Linked DNA regions of Homo sapiens: region 1 is linked to region 2. The links come from fine-mapping of genetic effects on gene expression. A gene starts in region 2. The other region holds a variant in brackets. All regions are shown on one strand. Distances are from middle to middle.

What was found.
Region 1: its variant is fine-mapped to the expression of RDH11 in whole blood (TOPMed, PIP 0.93).

The regions. Positions count from the first base shown.
Region 1 is chr14:67,770,550-67,773,049 of GRCh38, reverse strand. It overlaps ZFYVE26 (zinc finger FYVE-type containing 26), which reads left to right. Exons shown (of 42, transcript NM_015346.4): 28 at 840-1,003. Among named protein-coding and RNA genes, the nearest start is that of ZFYVE26, 45 kb to the left of the region's middle. The variant T/G (reference allele first, on the strand shown) is at 1,313.
Region 2 is chr14:67,694,632-67,697,664 of GRCh38, reverse strand. It overlaps RDH11 (retinol dehydrogenase 11), which reads left to right and starts at 1,901. Exons shown (of 7, transcript NM_016026.4): 1 at 1,901-2,035. The coding sequence starts at 1,962. It also overlaps a transcript of GPHN not described here. RefSeq lists enhancers at 1,584-1,633, 1,654-1,703, 1,748-2,384 and a silencer at 2,734-2,793.

The sequences.
Region 1 (2,500 bases), 76 kb before region 2:
TGTTTTTTCCAGACTCAAGATCTAAATAATGTCCATACATGGCATGGCATTTGGTGAAATATCTCTTAAATCTTTTTTTCTTTTTCTTTTTTAAGAGAGTCTCCCTCTGTCATCCAGGCCAGAGTGCAGTAGTATGATCATGGCTACTATAACCTTGAACTCCTGGGCTCAAGCAATCCTCCCACCTCAGCCTCCCTAGTAGCTGGGACTACATGCACACACCACCATGTCTGGCTAACTTCTGTATTTTTTTCTTTTGTATAGATGGAGTCTTGCTATCCATCTATGGAGACAGCCTAGTTGCCCAGGCTGGTTTTGAACTCCTGGCCTCAAGTGATTCTCCTGCCTCACCCTCCCAAAGTGCTGGGATTACTGGCATGAGCCACTGCACCAGCCTCTTAAAGCGCCTTTAATCAATAGGTTCCCTGCCTCTTTTCTTGTTTATCCCCCCTACCTCTTTTTTATTTGTGGAGGAGTCTAGTCATTTGTTCCCCGGAGCTTCCCACATGCTGGATTTTGCTGACTGCCTTCCTGTGGCAATCTGCGTCTTCATCCCCAGAATTTCCAGGACACTTGTAGTTAGGTCTAGAAGCTGGACTTGATTCAGGCTTAATATTTTTTAGTAAGTATACTTGATAGCAGGTGGTGTACACATCCATCAGGAGGCACACAATGTTCAGTTGTCTCTCTTTTATGACACAAACAGTCACTGATGATCATTAACTGGATCTATTCTTTCAATAACGGTTTGTAAAATGGTAAAATTCTATCATTCCCTCTTCATCTATAAGCTGGTATATTGATTACCTTTTACTCTGACCTCTGGCTCTGCCTCCCAGGTATCTCCAGTATACATTCCCCTAGTCTAAGGGAAAGGAGTTTCCCACCAACCCAGCCCTCACAGGAATTTGTGCCCCCAGCGACACCCCCTGCCAGGCACCAGTGGGTACCGGATGAGACTGAGAGTATCTGCATGGTCTGCTGCAGGGAGCACTTCACCATGGTAAGCAGCATCGGTCTCCACTGTCACCCTCAGGAGAAGGTAAAGGAGAATTCTAGTTCATGAGCCTGAGTTTACAATCACCGCCTGTCCCCAGGAGAATATCGGTATTTTCAGAACTGCCAAATCTAAGACTTTGGGTTCATTTTTGACCTGACCAGAATGTATTTTCTGGATTCAGACAGGTAGTAGACACCCTCAAACAGCCATAAATTCTAAAATCTTTGCCATTGTCATGAGATAATAAAAAAGAGGCAGGAGGAGTCAACAGGTGTCAGTGGATCTTGTTTCTGGCTCCCATGTCTTTGACAG[T/G]AAGACTGGTGACCCAGCAGTGGTTATATGCACTGACTCAGGAGACAGAGGGCCTGGGTTCTAATCCTGGCTCTGCCTCTTAATGACAGTGTGACTATACACTATTTTGGTCTCATGTGCCTACTTGTAAACTAAGGATGATATATTCTTAGGCTCATGGAGCTGTTAGGATTAAATATGATAATATGTGTCACCATACTTAACGCAGTACCTGCCCAGTATGCCACATCAGCTCAACGCTGATGAAAACGATGGTGATGTAATTGCTCTGTGTCTGTTTCCTCCTCATCTATAAAAGAGGTGTAATATTTCTATTAGAATGAAATGAAGCAGTACTTTAAAGTCACTTTGATGCCCATCCACTGTAGACTGGATAAAGAAAAGTGGTACATATACACCATGGAATACCATGCAGCCATAAAAAAGAACAAGATCATATCTTTTGCAGGAACATGGATGGAACCAGAGGTCATTATCCAAAGCAAACTAACACAGGAATGGAAAACCAAATACCACATGTTCTCAATTTTAAGTGAGAGCTAAATACTGAGAACACATGGACAGAAAAAGGGGAACAACAGACACGGAGTGTACTTGAGACAGAGGAGGGTGGAAGGAGGGAGAAGTTCAGGGAAGAAAAACTGCTAGGTACCATGCTTACTACCCAGGTGACAAAATAATCTGTACACTAAACCCCTGAGTCACGAGTTTACCTATGTAACAAACCTGCACATGTGCCCCTGAACCTAAAATAAAAGTTGATTTAAAAAAAAAAAAAGATATTAGGAAAGCAGAGTCAGGTATTTTCCTTATTTAAACTTACAAATCTTCAAGGAGGACAATTGGTTGTGGCTTGTTGAGACATATGACAAGCCACCAAAAGGAGTTTTGCATGACAAGCTGCTCTCTAGCTTTGAAACCACCATATAGAAGGTTTACTTACATATAGGGTAGATTATAGAAAGAGTTTCTAATCTTTAAATTCTAATAATGACAACAGTTGGCCTTTATTGACTGCCTACTGTATATGTTCCAGGCATGATACTAAGTGCTTTGCTTAAGTTATCTCTCTTAAATTTTACAATAACCTGATGAGCTTGGTAATATTATTACTATATTACACACATCAGAATATGGATGTATAGAGAAGGTATATAATTTGGAGAAGACTGATGAGACATTCTGAAT
Region 2 (3,033 bases):
CCCAGCTCTGCCTCTTTGACCTAGGCTAGCTTACACGGTGCCTCAGTTTTCTTGTCTGTAAAATAGGGAAAATTATAGTACCTACCTCTTAGAGTTGTTATGGGAATTAAGAGTTAATATATATATATAAATCATTGGGACAGGGCCTGGCCATAATTAAGCAGTATTTAAGCACTGGCTATTATTGCCATTTCTGGCACTCTCCCTTCTCCCTAGACGGTTTTCTGTTGCTCTAGTGCACCCTGCTTTCTCTGACTGTGAACCCTCAGGTGGGGTCTTTCCTCTGCTCAGCACACTCTTGTCTATGTTGCTTGCCTACTAACTTCCCTCTGGCCTCCGCTCAAATGTTATTTCCTCAAATAAGCCTCTCCTGATCTAGAACTCCTCTCCCTTGTAAAAGCTCCCAGAGCTTTCTCTAATCCTCCTCATAACCTTCACCATGATTTATTTACAGTGATTACTTATTTAAGGTCTTCTCTGACAGTCCATGAACTCCGGGCGAGCAGAGATTATGTGTTCCTGGCTTCCTGCTGGACATCAGCACAGTGCCTAGTACACTATAGGAATGCCATAAATGTTTGTCAAATGCGTGAATGACTGAATAAGGAACAAAACAAATGAAAGGCTTTTATAAAGTTATAAAACCCAATACAAATATTAGGTAACACAATAATGAGAATGTGACAAAATGTGATGATTGCTAGGTAATCTAATGTTAAATTGGTAGGAATTAGTATTGTGTGAAGGAAACCCTCTCTTCTCCAATTTGCTATAAAATATATTAGTTCATTGGAACCCGTGTCTTTTAACCAAATGGAAATTATGCAAAAGGACCAGAAAATATTACTGGGTACAATTAAGGAATCACAGACAGATATTGATTGGTTAAAACACCCTCCACTTTCACCCCCAGGAAATAGGCCTCAGATGAAAGAAACTATTGAACAGGGAACCTATTTATTCACAGAGAACATATTCATGGCCTTAATTCAAGACAGGATTAAATACTTTCACGAGTTGGCAAAACCAACTGTGCCAATCTGAGATATTCATTGCTACCCTGGGAGTTAATGTATGTGACCCAAGCCATCAGGAAGACGATATTCTATTATCAATGAACACTCAAACACTAGAAAAATCATGATAGTTGCCACCATAATTCAAGATAGACACAATAAAGTGATTCTCCTGAGAATGTCTTCAAGGACTTATTGCTTCCTCTTCTCTGGAAAAAGGAATCCTCGAGGAGGAAGGGTTTACATTCCCCCACCTTCCCAACTGTCAGACTTCGGACCGCTCCTCTCCTGTCTAATCCGCCTTTCATTTCCCAGACGCCAACATCTGATCTCCAGGAGAAACAGTGCGGTAACTGCCTAACCAGGATTGGGGAAAACTGAACCAGGCACTGGACTTGGGTCTGGGGAGATAGAGGACTGCAGAGATTTCACAAACACCGCGGTGCCTAGTACACTATAGGAATAAGTGTACTATTCCTATAGTGTATACTTTTTTTTTTCCAGAAAAATCCCTCTGGGGTATGAGCACTATTTTCAGTTCTGGTTCAACTTTTCATTGAGATTCTATGTGGATAAGAGGATCTTGTAGTGAAAAAAAGATAAAAAGCAGTGTTTTCATCTGAGTGTGAGAAACCATGTGTGCCTAGAGGTGGGAGAACTGAGTATTCAGAAGGCAGAAAAAATAACTGAGAGCTGGGTGAATGATCCCACAGGCCCTAAGCCCTAGATGGTTGGGGATTAGCGATGTATAATTCAACTTCTGCCAGCGTTGGCGGCAGCGCTCCCACGTAGCCAGCCTGAGGCTGTCAAGCTCTGGACTACATTTCCCAGAAGGTCTGCTCCCCGGGCTGTCGCAATTTGAATTGGGGCGTGTCTAGAAAGAGAAGCCATAGTCGGCGAGCAACGCTGGAGCATCCCGCTCTGGTGCCGCTGCAGCCGGCAGAGATGGTTGAGCTCATGTTCCCGCTGTTGCTCCTCCTTCTGCCCTTCCTTCTGTATATGGCTGCGCCCCAAATCAGGTCTGTGCAAATGTATTGCCTTCTCTTGAGAATTCTTGTTGCGGGGCGGGAGGGAAACATAGAATCCCCACCAAAGCTTTCTTGGAAAACTCCCCTGGGGGGGCTCCAAGATGGCGGAGCCCAGAGTTCGGTGGGTTGGAGGCGAGGTCCAGCTGTCCTGGGTGCCAGGAGGACACCCGAGACCCCAGGCGGTGAGAAAGGGCGGCAGTCCGGGGCACACTGCTTTTCCCTGGCCTGTTTTTCTTTTGTCTAAGCACCCCCTGATTCTGGCTCCAGGGAATCCCGAGGGTAAGGCTACCTCAAACGCTTGAGTTTCGGACTCTTCAATGGGATATGGCCCGACGCTGTTTTCCCCTTATTCCCCACGCCTTAAACCAGCCTTCGAGGTACAAAGGAGCGATTCCACATTTCGCCCTCTGAAACTGATAGCAATCGTAACATCTGCGGCCCCATCCTTGCTCTCTCGTTGCTGTTACAATCGCTTGTTCTGTGGGCGGATGTTGTAAAGGAGAAAAGTGAAAAGGAAGAGTGTTTGGTTATGAGCTCTATCCTGCCTTGCGAGCAGGAGCACGGGGGATCTGAGTTAGGAGCTAGGGTACTGGGGCGGTGAGGGCTGGGAGAATGGTGGGAAGGTATTGACCAGGTGATAGATCAATCAGCCCAAGGCTGGCCAAGTGCCCCAGTGAATCAGCAGCGGGCTGTAAAACCGGCAGCCTGCTTATTGGTTCTAAGTAAATCACCAGTGGTGACGGACCAGTGACTGAATAGACAGACACACTCCTTCCCCAGGTGGGCGGTCTTAGTCCCAATAGAACTTGAAGCCAGGCCAGATCACAGTCATTTCTTACCACAGTCACCTACTTTCCTTCTTTTATTTTTATTTTCTCTTCCTTCTCTGGTGCCCCTCTTCCAGTTATATTTTTTCTGCCTTCTGAACACTCAGTTCTCCCACCTCTAGGCACACATGGTTTCTCACACTCAGATGAAAACACTGCTTT